Linked DNA regions of Homo sapiens: regions 2, 3 and 4 are each linked to region 1. Evidence: fine-mapped expression QTL. A gene starts in region 1. Each other region holds a variant in brackets. All regions are shown on one strand. Distances are from middle to middle.

What was found. PIP is the estimated chance that this variant, and not a neighbour inherited with it, causes the effect.
Region 2: its variant is fine-mapped to the expression of CHD5 in whole blood (TOPMed, PIP above 0.99).
Region 3: its variant is fine-mapped to the expression of CHD5 in whole blood (TOPMed, PIP above 0.99).
Region 4: its variant is fine-mapped to the expression of CHD5 in whole blood (TOPMed, PIP above 0.99).

Annotation. Positions count from the first base shown.
Region 1 is chr1:6,177,537-6,182,370 of GRCh38, forward strand. CHD5 (chromodomain helicase DNA binding protein 5) reads right to left here and starts at 2,785. Exons shown (of 42, transcript NM_015557.3): 1 at 2,409-2,785. The coding sequence starts at 2,487. RefSeq lists enhancers at 1,041-1,542, 1,543-2,042.
Region 2 is chr1:6,129,374-6,134,207 of GRCh38, forward strand. It overlaps CHD5 (chromodomain helicase DNA binding protein 5), which reads right to left. Exons shown (of 42, transcript NM_015557.3): 20 at 4,755-4,834; 21 at 2,258-2,375; 22 at 831-955. Among named protein-coding and RNA genes, the nearest start is that of CHD5, 49 kb to the right of the region's middle. The variant GC/G (reference allele first, on the strand shown) is at 2,704.
Region 3 is chr1:6,152,497-6,157,330 of GRCh38, forward strand. CHD5 (chromodomain helicase DNA binding protein 5) reads right to left here. Exons shown (of 42, transcript NM_015557.3): 4 at 3,103-3,221; 5 at 2,164-2,402; 6 at 1-40. Among named protein-coding and RNA genes, the nearest start is that of CHD5, 25 kb to the right of the region's middle. The variant C/T (reference allele first, on the strand shown) is at 2,971.
Region 4 is chr1:6,145,276-6,150,109 of GRCh38, forward strand. It overlaps CHD5 (chromodomain helicase DNA binding protein 5), which reads right to left. Exons shown (of 42, transcript NM_015557.3): 8 at 3,971-4,137; 9 at 3,579-3,800; 10 at 1,390-1,596; 11 at 937-1,148. Among named protein-coding and RNA genes, the nearest start is that of CHD5, 33 kb to the right of the region's middle. The variant A/G (reference allele first, on the strand shown) is at 2,463.

The DNA of each region.
Region 1 (4,834 bases):
TGTAGTCCCAGCTACTAGGGAGGTTGAGGCAGGAGGATCGCTTGAGCACAGGAGTTCAAATCCAGCTTGGGCAACACAGCAAGACCCCATCTCTTCCAAAGAAAGCATGACAATGTGTCTCAGAGTGACTGGAAGGCCCTTAGCAAGGGTGTCCCTCCCCATCATAACATTCGAGCTGGGACCTAAATGACCAGGAGGCAGCGGTGAGCAGAGGAAAGAGCAGGTCAGGCAGAGGTCACAGCCAGGGCCCCATGGCAGGATGGAGCGTGGAGCGTGGAGTGTTCCAGAAGCAGCAAGGAGGCCAGCGTGGCTGCTGTGAACAAAGGGGTACAGGAGTGGACCCGGGACAAGGGTTTCAGAGGCGACTGGAGCCATGCGGGTCGGGATCTGACTTGGGTTCACGAGGTGACCCCAGCTGCTGTGCAGTGGGTGGTCAGAAGGAGTGGGTAGAAGGCCCTGGAGGGGACCGGCAGGAGGGGACAGAGGCTTGGACCCAGAACATGGAGAGAAGCCAGGAGCCTGGAAAGGCTCTGGAGGTGGAGCAGCTGGCCTTGCTGATGGATGGGGACAGAATCCCCAGGCCAGAGGTGCCAGAGCAGGGCGTCTCTTCTGCAGGGCTCTGGGGGCACTCCTGGAGGCTCTGGGGCCAACCCACCGAGGGGGAGCACGGGTGGTGGGCAGGATGACCAGAGCCCCGCCTCTCTGGCCCAAGCAGTGAGTCGGGTGCCTACTAGACTGGGGGCACCTTCCCTGGCCTCTTCCCCTCCCCAACCTCTAAGTCCCCACATAGTCAGAGAGAGCCGGAGTGTAAGATGGGAAAGACAGCCAGGGGACTCCACCAGCGGGTCGGTGCAACCCCAGAAATGCCACTGATCCCACAAAAGGGCCACACCCCAAACACCATAACAAACAACTTGCTGAGAAAACCAGTAAACTGGCTTACTGGGGAGCCAGCCTCCTAGGTGGAAAATGGCCACTGATTTTTTTTTGTGCCTGTGCGGGGCCTCAGAGTTCCCCTCCGGAGAATGGGTCTAATTCCAAGGACCCAGGATATGACAGTCAACTATTGTCCAGGCAACTCCACCCCAAGAGAGGACTCCCCTATTCCCCGTCCCCAGCACGCTCGCTGCCAACTTGGCCTGTCTAACAGGCGAGGTGAGTGCCGGGCTCCTGTAGGAGCTCAGTGACAGCATTAAAGCCACCAACTAACCAAGCAAGCAAACAGAAGGGGGCAGGGGGTGTGGCCACCTGGTGGGAATACCCTCCCCAGAAGACGCTGGCTGCTTCCTCCAACAGGAGCTGGAGGTGTCCATTTGTGGAGTCTTCTCACCCCTGGAAGTCAGAAGGGGCCAGATGCACGTTCCTGGGCCCGGGAGGGCCTCCAGCCTCCCACAAGTCTCTCCGAAGTCCAGAGAGGCCACAGACTTGGCGCAGGGAAGCCGAGAAGTAAGAGTCTCCCAGAAAGGAGGGAGGGTGGCTGACAGGGTGGGGCCCTACCCAGCTGTGCCAGGAGGGAAAACGTCCCAAACAAATGGTGAGCAGTTAACTAAAGAACTGTCCCGCAAGGCAACCCCTGGCGCACAGCCCTGTGTATACTAAATTCTGAGAGAGATAAAAGGAGAGAGATGGTAGGGGCAGGGGCGGTGGCCCTGGGGCGTCAGGCCCGTAGCCAAGGCAGGGTGGGCTGGGAACGGCCACCACCCTGGGCGATGGTGAGGCTGGAGACAGCGGCGGGCGCTAGGTCGCGCCAGAAGGACGCCGGCGGCCCGGGTAAAGTGCTTGGGAGCGGCGGTCACAGCGCACAGAGGCCAGGAAAGAGGAGCAGGGGTCCGAGCCCGTGCGTCCCAGAGCGGAGTCCTCCTGGGCCGGGAGGGAAGCCGCCCCATCCTGGGCGCTCAACGCGTCCCCAAGCACCGCCGGTCCTCGCCCCTCTCTGGGCCCCACCCAGCCCGCCCCGCGGCCGACATGGGCCAGGGGCCGGGTCCCGCCTGCCCGCAGCGAGGCCAGAGGCGCACGGCGGCGGGACGCGAGCGCGGGGTGCGCCGCTCCGGGAGCTAGCGCGATTCCCGCCCCCTTCAAGGGCACGCGGGCTGACCCTGACAGCGCCGCGCCCCCCAGCGCAGGCCCCGGCCCGCGGTCCTCTGGCCCGCCTGGCCCGCGTCGCCGCCCGGGGGGCCCGGATCGCACCCCGCCCTTAGCCGCCCTCACGCCGGCCCGGGCGCTCACCCAGCCTTCGCCCTTGGCCGCGCGGCGCCAGCAGGGCGGGAGCGCAGCCCCGCAACCCGGGTGCCCCTCCTGCGAGGCGCCAGCCCGGCCGCGCCGCCCCCGCCGCCCGCGCTCCGCCCTGGGCCCGGCCCGTCTCGGCGCCCCCGCCGCTCTGGCCCCAGGCGCACCCGCGCCCCGCTCACCTGACATCTCGTCCTCATTCTCCATCTCCTCGGCGAACAGCCGCGGCAGCTCCTCCTCGGTGCCCACTGGGCCCCGCATGCCCGGCGCGGGGAGGAGGGGAGGTGGGCGCCCCCCCTCCCGCCGGGCGCGGTGCCAGCCTTAACCCGTGCGCTGCCGGACCGGCGCGCGCGGCGGGCGAGGCGGCCTCGGCGAGAAGATGGCGGCCGCCTGCCCCCCCACCCCCCCAAACCTCCACCCCCCCGTCTCGACCCCCCTTTCTCTCGGCCGCCTTAGCCTGCTCCCCGCAAAGCCCGGGCGCTCCTCCCACCGCGCCCCGCAGCCCGAGTCCCGCAGCCGGCCGAGGGTGGCGGCGGCAGCGCCAGAGGCACGGCGGCACGGCGGGGGGGCGGCACACATGCCCGGATTGTGACGTCCAGTCTGGTTGCTGTGGCAACCCCATCCCATCGTTCCGGCAGCGCGACTAGTTAACAGCAGAGAACAAGTTGGGGGACTAGTCCTGAGCCGCCGGGTGAGGGTGGGGACCGGGGGGCGCCCCGGCAGGGGGAGCCGTCGAGGCGTCCGCGCGCCCGCGGACCCGACGGCCGAGCGGGCAGTCGGGGCTTGGCGAGCCCGGGCGCAGGGGGAGGCGAGGAAACACCGCCCCCGCGCACCCCGGGCAGAGCCAGCCGCCGCCGCTCGCCTGCGAAGGCGCTGGGCCCCGAGCCCCCAAGGGCGCGGAGGCAGGGTCTTCAGGGCAGCGCGCGGCCCGCTCCCCCACTCGGTTCACAGGCGCCGGGACCCACCCCGCTCCCGGCTCCGGCCTCGGCACGTTCCTAACCCCCTCTCCAAAGAGGATTAGAAGAAAAATGTGTTCCACACTTGGGGAAAAGACGCTCTGGAGACTGTGGGTCTGATTTACAGCAGAAAAATCCGCGCAGGCGGGCTCCCCTCACCTGCTTCCCCGCTCCCACCGCCCACGTGCCCCCTTCCAAAAAGCCCCTCCAGGCTGGGTGCAGCTGAAACCCATGCAGACCCCTAGGGGTGGTGCGGATCTGCGATGTCTGTGCCCAAAACTCCCGCTCAGAAGCGACACCTGTCGCAGAGCAGGAAGGAGCCGCCGCCACCAGCCCTCGGTCGTTAAAGGTGAAGATGGAGGCCAAAGCCCTCGGGAGCAAGACTGGAATTTTAAATGAGCGCCTCCAGTCTCCGCGGCGGCAAGTCTTAAAGCTACCTTAAGAACGCAAAAGTTCCAGGGGCTGGCCGACCGCCAGCTCTCTAACCCCAGAAGGCCCGTGAAGGGAGGGCCCCCTCTCACTGCCTCGCAGGGGCACTGGGGGAACCCACCTGAGACACGCAGGATCGGCAGCAGTTTCCCTTCTTCCCGTTCAATTTTATTGCCAGCAAACCCCAAACAAAAGACCCTCTGCATTCATCCCTGGGCAAGGAGAGGTCGGTCCAGCCTTCTGGAACCAAAGACTGGGGTGTTGGGAACCCCTCCATCTCCCAGATCCGCTTTAACTACGCTGTAGATAGAGAAGCCGGGTCAGCCCAGTGCTGGCCGCCTGCAAGGGGAAAGGAACACTCTTCAGGGAAGCAGGCCAGGAAACCAAAGGGCCTCCCCTCCCAAGGCCGTGTTTCCCCACAGAGCAGCTAGCCAGGGGGAGCCCCAGATCACCGAGGCTTGAACCAAACCTGCCTCTTCCTCGTTCTTTCCAGACCAACTGCCTCCATGAATGGTGACCAACAAGGGAAGAAAGCCCTAAGCTGACACGCCCACCCCTCAGTTACCAGCCCCCCAACACCTCTCTAATCCCTTTCAAAGGTCCCCTGCCCTTCGGTAGAAAAACTCTGATTTACAATACTTCTCATCACCAGAAAGCCGCCCCCATCATTAACCCTGGCTCCAATTCCCAAGGCGAGGCTGAAAGTCAAGATATCGTTCAAGAAAGAACAGTTCTAACTGCTTAATCTGGCAACAAATTAGAGCCGAGATGCTCATCAGTCATAATCCTCTCCCCATCCTGTTCTTCCCGATGACTGCAACTAGGTAATATTATTTAATGTCCAAAAGCAAAATGAAACAAAAACTGGAATGCTAGAAACAAATGGATTTTTTTACTACAAATCTCCAGGTTTTTTGGGTTTTTTTTTTCAAGGGGGGGAGTTGAGATGGTGTCTGTCGTCAGGCTGGGGTGCAGTGGCGCAATCTCAGCTCACTGCAAATCTCCGCCTCCCGGGTTCAAGCGATTCCCCTGCCTCAGCCTCCCCAGTAGCAGCTGGGACTACAGGCGCGCACCACCACACCTGGCTAATTTTTTGTATTTTGGTAGAGACAGAGTTTCACCCTGTTGGCCAGGATGATCTCAATCTCCTGACCTCGTGATCCGCCTGCCTCGGCCTCCCAAAGTGCTGGGATTACAGGCGTGAGCCACCATGCCCGGCTCTC
Region 2 (4,834 bases), 48 kb before region 1:
TGAAGCCACACAGAGCTTCGTGGGGGCCACGGGGAGGTAGGAGGCTGCATTTCCCTGTGAGCGAACCACTAATGGGACCACAAGACCATGTGCTGGAGACACGCAGCCACCTTCTGAGGGCAGCAAGGAGCTGAATCTGCCCAGTATAATACAAGGAAGTGCCTGAGACTCTGTGCAGCCCTACATGAGGTGACCTGGGTGTGGCCGTGTATATCTGTGTATGTGCATGGGCGCACACACATGTGAATGAGACATCAATTTGTATGTGTTCCCCTACATTTGTAAGCATTCAATGTGTGTGTCCCAGCGCCCGAGAGGGGTGGCCAGGTACACTAGGGTGGCTCTATTCCCATACCCCTCCCCCCACAGCCCTTCCATCCTTCCTTACAGCCCCATCTGCCCCTTGCACTATCTTATCCTCCCCTCCACCTCCAACAGGCCCCACTCTCTGCTCCCCACCCCCTTCAAAATGGGTGCCCCTCTGGGTCCCAGGGCTCCCTCTTCCTGCCTCCCTCCACGGCCTTGGTCCTGAGGATGATGGGAAAGACCAGATCAGTGGCCACTAGGAACTGCTGTGCGCCCTGGGACACTTCCCCTGCCCTCTCCAAGCCTGCTTCCTCCTCTGGACAAGGACAGAGCTGGAGGGATGGGGGCCAAGCTTCCACTCACTCCCAGAGCCCCTCTTGGGGCCGAGACTCCACGGGGGAGGGAGGCCCACAGCACCAGGATAGGTGAGGGGGTGATGGCAAGAAGGGCATGAAGGACAGAACCTGCCTGAGGCCCGGGATGAGAGGCCCCCTGGGAGGGTGGTGGGCGGCAGCAGCACAGACCTGGATGTCATTGTGCGGGTTCCAGTCCGAGTCGTAGATGATGACAGTGTCCGCCGTGGCCAGGTTGATGCCCAGACCACCTGCCCGGGTTGAGAGGAGGAAGCAGAACTGCTGGGCCCCGGGGGCTGAAAAAGAGAGGCCAGCAGATGGGAGTGTTTGGGGGGGTACACCTTGGGTGGGCAGAAAGGATGGGGGAGAGAACAGAGAGAAGGAACTGCAGCAACAGATCCCTGGCAGAGAAGGACAAAGCCGGAGACCCCATCAGAGACGGGTGGCCACAGCTGCACTCAGGGGAGCCAGAGGAGGCCTGCCCAAGCCCACTTAGCCCCCAGCGAGCTCTGAGCCCTAGTGCAGTGGGAGGGCACTGGAACGAGGAGGTCAATTTTCAAACCCCAGATGAGCAAAAAACAAAGTGCAAGCCGCCAGCAAGTACAAGCAGAGCCCTAGAGAGCTCAGAGTCCTTCATGTCCCCGCAGCTTCCCACCCCTGGCTTCCCTTAGCCCACCGATGCTGCCAGGGCAGCCCGGGAAAACTCAGGGGCGCAGCTCCGGGACCTGGGGTCCCACCCCACTGGGCAACCCTGTCACAGGATGGCTGGTTCTCAGCCTCTCAGGGCCCTTCAGTGACCTGGGACTGACCACAGCCCCCACTGGAGCTGCAAACAGGCCCCTGGCACACCCAGGGCTTCAGCCACTCCTGCTTCCACATGTGGCTGGGCCACGTCTAGACCCTGAAACTCTGAACTTGCTATTCCTCCTGGCTCTCTGGCACAAGTGTTTGAGAGGAATCACTGCTTTGGGCGTTTGGAGAGCGTGGCCCCAGCCCCTAAGGGCTGACGCCCCAGGGAAACAAAGCTTGTTACTATTTGCTGCAAACTTGCTACTGAAGCTTACAGCCGACTGCTTCCCACTCCAGAAGTTTCTTTTGCTACAGGAGGAACTCCACCGGCAAGACCCTCCTGACCTCCACCCTCGCCTCTCCTTCCCAGGCAGGGAAGACCAAGCATGGGTGACTCTGGGGAAAGAGCCTGATCATGTGTGGCCCAGCCCTTTCACTCTCTCCTGCCTCTGGAAGTGGCCCCAGGTAGCACGTGCATCTCTGTACCTTCTGCCACCATTCACCATACGGCAGGCTCTGTCCAACACCACTTGTAACTGGGGCTCACCTGGCGTCAATATTAGAGGCCCCGTCTGCGTTTCTCATTGTCTAACTCCATTCCCAACAGGTGTTATCTACTGGGCCCCTCAGAACTCCGATTCCATGGGAGGAATCCTTTTAACATTGGAAACTCGGACTGGCCTGCTGTCTTTAGCTGTTTGTGAGGCTGCTCAACACAACACCAGCTGGGTGACCTGGCTAAGAACCAGGCCTGGGAGAAGAGGCCAAAAAGGAGTCTCAATCAGAACCCTTGGGCAGGATGGGGGTACCATTGAATCTGTCGATTGCCTCCTGCCGGAGGCCCCCGGTGATGCCACCATCAATCCGCTCATACTTGTAGCCTTCGTACTCCAGGAAGTCCTCCAGGAGGTCCAGCATCTTGGTCATCTGCAGGGGAGACGGGCACGTGAGGAACTGCCAAGGAGCAAGGGGCCCCATGGGCCATGGGCGGGGACCCCGCCACAGGCAGGGGAGGAGAGAGCTGCCTGCTAGGTGGGGAGACAGCTGGGACCCAGGCAGGCCCAATGCAGGACTCTGGGGAAGAACAAAGCTTCCAACCTCACCCCTTGGAGCCAATCCATCCTCCTGCCTAGCCCCACAGCCACTTACCTAAATCAGGGCTCTGACATGAGCCTCCCCTGCTCCCACCACACAGAATTAAGTTCCATCTCACTGCCCTGTATTCAAGGCGCTGCAGGACGAGTGCTCCTTCACA[GC/G]CCCCAGCCATTCCAAACTACCTGACTCTCTTCCTGGAATGCCCACCCCCTTACTGCCTAGGGAACATAAACATCACCTCTGTGATGTCTTCCCTGATTTCACTCCTCCCCATAAGAAAAGAAAGGCAGTCCCTTCTGAGCTCCCATGACCCCGTATAATTCCCTTTATTCTCGAGAGAGAGTTTAGCTGGATATAAAACTATCAGCACACATTTTCCCTCAGTGCACCGGAGATTTTGCCATGGTCTCTGCCACCTGTTGTTGTTAAGAAGTCTGAGAACGATCTGGCTGCCCTTATTTTGTAGGTACTAGGTCTAAAGTACCTAGAGGTTCTAACGTGTCTACGGGTTCATTTATTTATATTTATCTTGCTTGCTATTCCAGAATGCACTCCAGATCTGAGACCTCACATTTCTCTCCAGGTCTGCAAACTCTCAACAAATCCAACTTCTTCACCATTTTTTCTGTTTCTTCTGCAACTCCAATTGGATGATTGTTGGAGCATCTCAAGGTGTCTTCCATGTTCTCCCTGTTTTATCTTTGTCTCTGTACATTGCATTCTGGGAAAATGCCTCAGCACCAGGTTCCAATTTATCAATGTTCTCTTCAACAGTGTTCAGAGTCTGTCCAGTCTGTTGAAATGTTTTATCTCAATTTCATGCATGTTTCTATCCAATTGTTCCTATTTCAGTTCTTCCTGCTTTTGCTTAATTTCTTCTTTATTTTAGGGTGTCAATTACTCCATCATTTTTGAGGATCCTAAACACATCTATGTAAAGTCTTTTCAGGCTATCCTATTCTTTTCTCTCTCTCTCTCTCTCTCTCTCTCTCTCAAGAGACAGGGTCTTGCTCTGTCACTCAGACTGGAGTGAAGTGACAAGATCACAGCTCACTGCAACCCTGAACTCCTGGGCTCAAGCAATCCTCCTGCCTCAACCTCCCAAGTCGCTGAGATTACAGGGTGAGCCACTGCGCCCAGCCCCTATTTTCTTATTTGGATTCTATTTATTGTTTTGGGGGATGTCTCAGCATTCACTTTTGTATGGGTTTGGAATTGGGGTTCATAGGCTCATTTTGGGCAGGAGGGCCCCGTCTCTGTCGCTTGCCCTGTGTGCACATTTCTGGAAGCTGTGTGGTTCCCATTACTTGGTATCTCAAGGCCTCTGATCAGACTTGCGTCTCGTGTTGGTACCGAGGTACTGGGGGGATGTGGGTCCATCTCCACTCCAGCCCACTCCTTGGCTCAGCCCCTGGTCTCAAACTTGCCCTGCTTTCCAGTATTCTTCGGGCTGAAGCAGCCCAGCAGGGTGACCTGGGGCTGCAGGCGGCGGACGCTGCTTTCAGTTGATGTTTGTGCACAAGGAGCCATAGCCCAGACTCTGGGTTTGAGCAAGGGGCCTGGCTCAGTGGGCCCACGAGAGGAGCATTTTTAGCCCCATGACCCTGTAGGATCATCACTGTGGCCTCCAACACAGAGCTGACCACAGGGTCGGGTACCTGTCCCTTGAGCTGTCTCCCACAGTAGACTGAGCAGCTTGAGGACAGGGACTAGATCACTGGTCCCTGCACCCATGTGCCAGCACAGAGCCTGACTATGACAGACGCAAACAAAGGGATGGAGGAAGAAATGAACACACCTGAGCCGGCGGCCCTGCCTCCAAGCCAAAAAGCCAGGTGCCAGTGGCCCCTCAGGGCCTATTGGAGAGAGGGGCTCCTCCCAACCACACCCCAGGGCCCTACCTTAATGAGAAGCCAGGCTGCGGGGGAGAGGGCCAGGGCAGGGGAGGAGGGGCTGTCCTACCAGCCTGGACATGCAGACCAGAAGGGCAGGTGTGGGGAGATGTTGCTCTTTATGGCAAATGTGTTCTGAGCTCCTCAGCCGCATTATGCCAGGGCACGGGGGAGTGACCCCTGACACACAGTCACATGACCCACATGGGAACGGCACTGGGCCCTGAGGGGTGCCAGCAAGTTTGCGCCCCCAAGCATCAGGGCAGGATGCTCTCTGTGGGGTGTGGAGCCGGGGCGGGGGTGGGCAGGGGCAGCGCACCTGGGAGAAGATGAGCACACGGTGCCCCTCATCCCGCAGTTTCTTCAGCATCTTCTGTAGCAGCATGAGCTTCCCTGAAG
Region 3 (4,834 bases), 25 kb before region 1:
CCATCTTTGGAGCCTTTGATCTTCTTCCTCACTCCAGGCCCTGAAAAACAGCAGTGATGATAGCCAACCACTGCCACCACTGACGGCCTGCTTCCTGCCATCATCTCACTGAGCTCTCGGTTACCCAATAAGGAAAGGGTCATTTCTACCATCACCCCGTTTCAGATGAGATGCCTGAGGCTTGGAGAGGTAAACCCCTTGCTTAAAATCACACAGCAAGTGAGGCAAAAACCAGATGACGGCTCTGACTGGAGGCTGCCCTGACCGCCTTGCTGCCCCTTGTCCATGACCCACAGAAATGTGGCCCTTTTGGGAGGATCCCCTATACCGTCTCCAACCACTGAAAGGAGGCACTAGCCATCCCCCACAGCCAGCAGGGCCACTGAAGGCACAGCCGCCCACCTGTGGTCCATGCCTGAGCCCCCAAAGGATGTCTTGGAGCCAAAAGGCCTTTTCCCACCTGCCAGCCAGGCAATGCTGGTCCCACCCAAGACTGCCCCACCTCTGCCAGTCAACCCCAGCAAGGGCCAGCAGGGCTGAGGCTGTTTTTATGGAGCTGGCCACAGGGCAATTAGCTACCTGGGGAGTAATGACCCAAGAAGGAAGGGGGGCCTGGAGGCAGGGATGCACACCCCACAGAGGCAGCCTCTCCCCAGGCCGTCCTCTGGCCACACCACACACACGGACATGGAGCTAGGAGCCCAGCTGCACCCTCCATGGCGCCGCGGAAAATCTATTTCAATTTTCCAAGCTCTGAATAAGCAGCTCATGGAATCGATAGCTCAGCAGCTGGAGCGCGAGAGGAAATGAGAAAACAAGGCAGGCTGGGCAGACAGGGGCGGGCCAGGAGCCCCTCCCGAGATCCTGATGGCCCAGACAGATGGAGCAGGACAGGGAACAGACTCTGACCCTTGTCACTTCACCCACCAGGCTCCCTTCAGAGACTTGGCATGGTGATGCCAGACACAGAACCCCAGAAACTAAAGCTCCTTGGGGCTGAAAGAAGGGATCCCCGGAGCCCCCTCAGCCCCTTCCATCAAAACCCAAATCAGCCAGACGCGGTGGCTCACACCTGCAATCCCAGCACTTTGGGAGGCCGAGGTGGGCAGATCACCTGAGGTCAGGAGTTCTGAGACCAGCCTGGCCAACACGGTGAAACCCCGTCTCTACTAAAAATACAAAAAATTAGCCAGGTGTGGTGATGCACTCCTGTAATCCCAGCTACTCAGGAGGCTGAGGCAGGAGAATTGCTTGAACCCAGGAGGCGGAGGTTGCAGTGTGCAGAGATCGTGCCACTGCACTCCAGCCTGGGAGACAGAGTGAGAGTCTGTCAAAACAAAACAAAACAAAACAAAACAAATCAGGGCACCCAGGAAAGCTGAGCTGCAGGTGACTGACAGCCCTGGGGAGATCAACATCCCCAGCCTCCAAAAGGCCAGAAACCTGCACCCAGAAAGCTCCCTCCCCAGGGCCTTCAAGTCACAGGGGGCCTCTGCTGCCTGCATCCTCCCCACCCAGACGCCCTGCCACTGAGGCAGAATTTGGATCTCGATCTCCTTCCAGGCCTGTCCCAGAACAGCCTCCCTGGGAAGCGAGACCTGGCCGTGCCCAGTCCCTCCAACTCCTGCCTGCTTCCCGGATCCTAAAGCTGGAGGGGCAGGGCCTCCATGCTCCACATTGGCCGAGGGCCTGGAGAACAACCCTGCACACAGTGGGTATGCAGACAAGAAGAAGAGACGGGCTCGACTGGGGCCTCCTCCTCCTCCCCAGAAACGGCACAGGCTCAAACCCAAGAGCCTGCCAACTCCCAGAAACCCAGGCTGGAGCGGCTCCACTCTGCGTACCTCTGGTCCCGCCCTCCCTCCAGGCCCACGTCGGGGGCACCTCCTGGCTGGCCAGGCTCAAACCTCCCAGACCTCTGCCCACATCATCGCCTCTGCTTCTCCACCAACCCCAAAAGGGAGTCAGGCACAAAAGAGGCGACGATGCTGCCTCACTGCTGAGAAAGGACCGGGCAATCCAAGGTCACACAGGCACAGAGCCCTCCATTAGGAGCACCCCAGCTGCCCCTCCCTGCCCGCGTCTGCCCCGTGGCTTCTCCTATAGGGTCTGAAAGGGACCTCTTCCCAGCGGGACTAGGTGCCCACCCAACCCCAGCCTTACCTTTGCCCTCCTTGGTCTTGGCCTTGCGGATAGGCACAGGCTGGGGCACCTGCGGGGGGCTGACGGCTAGCGGAGGGGAGATGGTGACCGTCTCTACAGCCGCAGCCACCGCCGCCGCCGCTGCTGCCGCGGAGCTGCCCTTGAAGGGGTTGTTGGCGCTGAACTCCCGCCACTTGGCACCCAGGACGGTCATCATTTTGGACATGGGGATCTTCGGGTTCTTCTTGGCAATGAGTGGCCTGTAGGGGGAGAGGCAGGAGGGTGAGGGCAAGGCCAGGTGAGATGAGAGGCCCACCCGACCCCCGGCAGGGCCCACCCCTCTGCCACATGTGCGATCTATGGCAGCAGCCCCAGGTTCCTGATTAGAGAGATTAGGCGGGAAACCCACTGACCACAGCCCACCCCCAAAACGCCCCAGCTTCCTGTCCACACCCACAGCCCACCCCCAAAACACCCAGCTTCCTGTCCACACCCACAGCCCACCCCCAAAACACCCAGCTTCCTGTCCACACCCACAGCCCACCCCCAAAACACCCCAGCTTCCTGTCCACACAGTTGGTGATTTTCTCATTGGGTTTTCAGGCCCTGCAAGACTTGTGGGGCCACAGGTGGGCTACAGTGGGCCTTGGGGTCTCCGTCCCACCTCTACCAGAGCTGAGAGGCCATGGTGGTGAAAGACCCCCCAGGAAAGACTGGAACCACCTTCCCCAAGGGGAAGAGACTCAAGGGCTGAGGGGCAGGGCCCACAAGGGAAGGCCTGGTGGTCTGTTAACATGAAGGGGTCCTGCCCCCTCCCTCCAGCTCCCC[C/T]AGGTTGCTCAGTCGGTCTGACAGAGCCCACCCCTACCCCAGGTGCCGGGGCTTCACTCCTCTGCCTCCCTCCCGACTTGGTACCACCAGAGGATGTGCGGGCCTGGAGAACAGCCCTAGTGCCCCGCCCACCTGAGGAACTGGCTGAAGGCCTTGTAGTTGGTCAGCGTGTGGTAATCCTCCTCCGAGAACAGGTAGTCCACGTCGTCCAGGCCCCACTCGGCCATGAGCTGCCCCGAGGACTTGGGCTCCTACAGAGACCCAGGCCAGAGGTAGAGTTGTTGAGGGGCCTTCTGACCTGCACCCCCATCCCCAGGGTCTCTGCCTAGGAGGCTTTGGCACAGGGGAAAGAGGAGGGGTTGTGTCTGCAATGTAACCAGACCATTCTCACCCACCCTAGGAAACATTCAAGCCCTGCAGCCCCGCAGCCCCGCAGCCCCCAATCTGTGCCACGTCTCAGATGCCAGCCCACGAAGTGCAGGCCAAGTGTTCGACGTCAGGGTTTGGGGAGAGGCCATGTGTGTGCCCTGAACTTCCAGAAAGGGAAATCAGCCAGGTGTGGGCAAGGAGACTGGATGCCTGAGACCAGGCCCCCATCCTGAGATAGGGCTGCCCGACCAGCCTCGGGACACCAGGGCAGGACAACAGAACTTGCCCTCTGTGGGGACTGCATTCTGGGGATTTGGACAGCAGGACAGCACAGTGGCCTGAAGACGGGAAGATGTCCCTGATGAGGCCGCAGGGCTCCAGGGCTGCCTAAGCCACTTTAGAAAGACATGAGGCCTCCAGGCCAGGGGTGGTGGCTCACGCCCGTAATCCCAACACTTTGGGAGGCCAAGGCAGACAGATCATTTGAGGTCAGGAGTTAGAGACCAGCCGGGCCAACATGCTGAAACCCTGTCTCTACTAAAATACAAAAATTAGTTGGGTGTGTTGGTGTGTGCCTGTAATCTCAGCTATTTGTGAGCCTGAGGCAGGAGAATCACTTGAACTCGGGAGACGGAGGTTGCAGTGAGCCGAGATGGCGCCACTGCACTCCAGCCTGGGTGACAGAGCAAGATTCTGTCTCAAAAAAAAAAAAAAAAAAAAAGACATGAGGCCTCCCCAGGATGCCAGGTATAGCTACGTCAGCCCTTGTGAAGGACAGGCCACTGCCAGTTTCCAGTGAAAGGAAAGTGCACTCTGCTGGGGCAGGGGCATGGGACAATGGGCCAGCTGGGGGCACAGCCCAGAGAGGATCCAACTACTGCTGAGGCCTGGGGTGGAGGGACATCCTGGGGGCACAGCCCTGAGAGGATCCAACTACTGCTGAGGCCTGGGGTGGGGGGACATCCCAGGGGCACAGTGAGTTCTCAAGAGAGCTAGCCCAGGGGTCAGGTGACCAGATGACCAGGCCCGGGCTGGCGGGGCTCAGAAAGGGAGGTGCCGGATGTGGGCATGGGCTGGTTCTGATCCTGGCTCTGCCACATACCGGTGGTAAGAAGTGGATAAGTTACTTAACTTTCCTGCCTCGGTTTCCCCATCTGTAAAATGGAGATAATGGCACACTGCCTTGCAGAACAGAATGACTTAGTGCAGGTGCTTGGAACAGGGTGTGTCAAAATGCGTTAGCAATTGTTAGCACCCAACCCACCCTTCTTCTTCCTTCCCTGACACCCCACTTCTTCCAAGCAGCCCTGAGCTGCCCCCACCCAACCTGATACATTAAGCCAATCAGTACACACCACTCCTAGGCCAAAGTCTGGTCAGGCCAGTCATGTCTTAAGCCAGTCCAATCAGAGGGAATGCTGGTCTCCTGCCTGCATACCTGGACATGGGAGGCCTGCTCTCCCTCCTGCTGGAGGGGCCAAGAAGCCCCGAGCTG
Region 4 (4,834 bases), 32 kb before region 1:
TCTGAACATCTGGCTCAGGCTTTTAACCTCTGCTCTACCCAACAGCTGCCTGAAGCCAGAAGCACTGAGTGTCAGAGGCCACCGATCCTAAGCCCCTCAAAAACAGAGGCCACAGGGTAGCTGGGATGGGGAGCACAAGCTCCAAGCTGCCACCAGGCAGCAGGTACTCTGGGCCCCACCCCAAGGCCCATCTGTCAGCCACCACCAGTTCTCAAGCACCTCAACTCAAGAATCAGCAGGCATTCCCACCACCCACCAAATCAAAACCAAAGCCCACGGGCCTCCTGCCTCTGGCTCTTTGTGCCAGCCTCCTGCAGCCTCTGATTGCTAAGGCATCCCAGGGAACTGCCAGACTGCTCCAGGAAGAGCTGCTGCTGGGGCACTGGGGGGTGCAACAGTAGCTAAGAAAGCAGGTCCTGCAGTCAGAAAGCATGGGGTTCAAATCCCAGCTCCACCCCGTGGCTGTGTGATTCTGGCGACTTAACCTTGCTGTGCCTATTCTCACATCAGTAAAACAGAGGTGAAAGTAAGACGCCTCCCTCCCAGGGTAGGCAGTGCTCAGTACAGCCAGCTGCTGTTACAAACGCGGGGGAAATGTGGACATACTCCCACACCTCGGGCGTCCCTCGTCCTCAGAACCCTCTTGCTGGTATCAAGCACTAACCCAGCATGAGGGTCCCGACGCCCCAGGGGTGTGAACACGTATGCATGAGTGTGCCGGCATGCATGGGACGGCCCCTCTAGCAGGTCAGGCAGATCTCCAGCACTGGGAACCCTGGGCCCTTCCTTGTGCCCCTGCTGTGCCCACATGTGGTTCTGCACGGCAGCCCCAAAGCAAGGGCCCTGGCACCCTGCGCTGCACCCATTTTACAGGGCAAAGAAGCTGACGTGGCCCGGCCCCAGCGATGGGCAGGGTGGCCGCCTGCAGGCACACACCTATGGTTCAGGATTCGGTGAATCATCATCCACTCTGGCTTGATGCCATAGCGGTAGAAGCGCTCCTCCATCTTGGCATAGAGGGGGTCCTTGTTCTTCCTCTTCTCGCTCTTGCCGTCTTCATCCCCAGAGCCGTAGTCAAAGGGGGGCGGCTCATCCATGTCGTTCTTTCTTTGGTAGTTGCGATACATCACCGTGTGGTACAGCTCCAGCTGCTCATGGAGCGGCACAAAGTCACAGAAGGGAGATGGGCCATGGTCCCCTGCATCTCCCTACCCAGCTCCTCTAGCCCCAGCCCAGGTCCCAGGCAGGACAATCCTCCCGCTCAGCACCACCCCAACTCCCAACAGCACCCCTCAGTCAGAGGCGCTTCAGCCCCTTCCCGCCAGCCCAGGAGGGTCCAGGGCTCACCAGGTCCCGGGCCTTAGCACAGCCACCCTCCCGGGCACTCACCTGTAGCTCCTTCACCCAGGAGCAATGCCAGTAGGACAGCCCTGCCCACTTGACAAAGAACTCTCTCTCAGGGATGCCCTCCAGGGGCTTAGGTGGAGGGAGGCTGGGCTCCACGTCAGGCCCCGGCAGCCCCACCATGAAGGGGGCAGGGGGCTCCGTCCACCTCCAGTGTAGAATCCGCTGGACTTTGCCCTTCAGTGGGGGGCACTGTGGACAGAGAAGGGTCCCCAAGGTGGGGCTCAGCTGCAGGGCCCCACCCTGAGGCTCCCATGACAGCAGGCTGCCATGCAGGCTCCCTCCCATCAGTGCCACTGCCCCCAAGTCAGAACAGTACCACGGTGACGCCATGACATCCACCCCGTCCCCAGGAGCCGCATGGGTCATGCACACAGGAGATGGGCAGTGGGGGTCTGTGAGACCACGTGGCCCTTTCACTCAATGGTGAACTTATCGGCACCCAGAATATCTGAGCCAGCGTAGGTGAGACTGCCATGTGCATAGGACAGAGGGGGAAACTGAGGCCCACTCGGCAAGGGACAGCAGAGCAGGGAGCAGAACATGAGATTCTGGACTTCCCCTACCTTAGGTCTTCCCATTGCCCCCTGAAAAGAGGTCACATCACTGTGTGATCCCCAAGCACTCAGGGAGCATGAGCCCTGTGCTGGAGCCCAGGGACACGGCAGCCCCATCCACCATCCCTCACCCGGGGCAGGGCTGCACCCAGGCACCGTGCGTCTAGGCTGGGACAATGAGGCCCCATCTCTGGCAGCCCACAGACACACTGCAGGGGCCCTGACAGATGCTAGGGTGACAGTGAGCTGCTGGCTGGCAAAGGCAAGAAATACAACAGCCACAAACCACACCACTCGGGCCCTGAGATGGGTGGGAGCAGCCTTGGCCCTCCAAGGAGGCGGTGCTGTCTGACTGGACAGGGTCGGGGGTGACTGATTCAGGGAGACAGCTCTGGTGGGGATAGCAGGTCCCAGCTTTGCTACTACCTGTCCTCGGAAACTCATCCAAGCCTCCAGAGCCTGCTTTCCCATCTGTAAAATGGCCCACCCCTTCCTCCACCT[A/G]CCAGATCTGTGGTGCCACATCACACCTGAAGGCATTCTGGAGGTGCAAGGTACACCACACAGCCAGCCTTCCTTTGGCCTTGGTGACAGCAAAGGCCGAGAGGCAGAGGAGGAGGAGGAGGACATGGGAGGCAGGAAAGGCTCCTCCACTGGCTCTTGGGGGAGTGGAAGAGGGGACCCTTCCTACCCAGGCCATGGACCCTCCTACCCCCATCCCAGCCCCTCAGGGAAGAAGCTGAGAGGAACCCCACTCCTGCCCCCCTCCCATCCCCAGGGCCTTCCATCAATCCTAGGAAAGCACAGAAGGCTGCACCCCTCAAAAGGGTCCTCCCCTGGCCCCTACACAGACACAGACAAGTATGCGCACGGATGCACGCACACACATACACACGCACAATGCACACAGGACGGCCCAGGGCTAAAGGAGGCACAGCCCAGGACCTGAGGGGTGGAGGATCTGGCACCACAGGGGGCAGGACAGACAGCTCAGAGCAAGGGGCCTTCCGATGTCTACTGTGACTGGGGGGTGACGGATGGGGGGTGCCCCTCTTCCTGTAGAAACTGAGGCTCCCGCCCTAGGAGCCTCCTGCCCTAGAAGCCTCCTGCCCTCTCCCTATCCCCAGCCTTGGAACAGGAGCCAGGTCTGGGGTGGCTCCAGGAACCTGAATTTGAGTGGATAGTTCTGCCCTTGTGTGGCCTTAGGCAGGTCACTCTGCTTCCCTGAGCATCAGTTTTCTCATCTAAAAAGGGAGTAACATGCCTGGTGCCAGAATACTCAGTAATGTTAAAGGACACTATGATGGATGTGGAGCCCTTGCAGAGCACGTGGTCACTGAACAGTGGTCGCGGTGTTGGCATGATCACCACACCTGTCTGCCTTTCCCTAACACTCATGCCTCCCGTCTCTAGGGGAGTCAGACGCGGAGAAGGGCGCGAGGAAGCTATTGTGGACGGGGTCTCGAGCAGCGCGGGCGAAGCTTTGCGGGATCGGCTACCGAGGCGGGGCAGGAGCCGGCAGGGGCGGGGCCTTTTGAGGAGGGCAGGCCTTCCCCTGGGGGCGGGGCCTGTTCCTGGGGTGGGGCGGGGCGTCCGGCGCGGGGCGGGCGGAACACTCACAGTACAGCGCGGGCAGAGCCATTCACCGTTTGGGATCTCGGGCAGCGGCGGGTTGAGGCAATGCAGGTGGTAGGAGGAGGGGCAGGCGTCGCAGCAGAGCAGCTCGCCCCCGTCCTTGCACACGCGGCAGAACTCCATGTGGTCGTCCTCCTCCTCCTCGCAGCCGCCCTCCTCCTCTTCATCGTCGTCGTCCTTCGGCTCCCACTGGATCCCCTCCTTCTCCTGGGGGAGGAGGCCAGGTGGAGGCACCCTGGGCGGGGTCCCCGCTCCACCAGGCCCGACTCCCTCCCTCCCCTACAGCATCTCCCCGCATTCTGCCCCCAAATGAGGGCACAGGGGTGGGGGAGCCAGGCGTGGCCCCGCCCCCAGCCCGGGGCTCTGCCAAGGCTTACACAGTGGGGGCAGCTCCACTTGCCCTCGGGAGCCTTCTCCAGCTCTGGGTCCAGGCATACGAGATGGTAGGCCCTCGGGCAGGTGTCGCACAGGATGATCTCCCCACCCTGCTGGCACACCTCACAGTAATCCTGGTGGTCTGTCTCATAGCCGTCACCATCATCAACTAGGGTAGGGGAGAGGCAGTCATGGAAGTCCTCATCCACACTCCCAGCACACAACCAACTGCATCGCCCCAGGCCAGACAGGCACAGAGTAGATGTCTAATAGAGGGTGGATGGAAAGGTGGGTGGGTGAATAGACTGATGGTTGAGGTGGTAAAAGGGTGAGGAGATAGAAGATGGATAAAAGGAAAGAAGGAAGGAAGGAAGGGTAGGAGAGTGGGTGGATGGGTAGAAAGATGAATGGATAAATGGATGATGGATGGATAGACAAATGGATGGATAGATGAATGGATGGACAAATGGATGGATGGATGGATGATGAATGGACAAATGGATGGACAAATGGAAATGGGTGGACTGATGGATGGATGGATGGATGGACAAATGGATGGATGGATAGGTGGATGGAAGGATGGATGGATGATGAATGGACAAATGGACGGATGATGGATGGATGGATGGATGGACAAGTGGATGGATAGATGGATGTATAGATGGATGAATGGACAAAAGAATGGATGGATATATGGATAAACCAAATGGATGGATGAATGGATGGGCAAATGAATGGATGATGGATGGATGGACAAATGGATGGATGGATGGATGGATGGATGGATGGGCAAATGGATGAGTAATGGATGGACAAATGGAAGGATGGATGCATAGATGGACAAATGGATGGATAGATGGACAAAA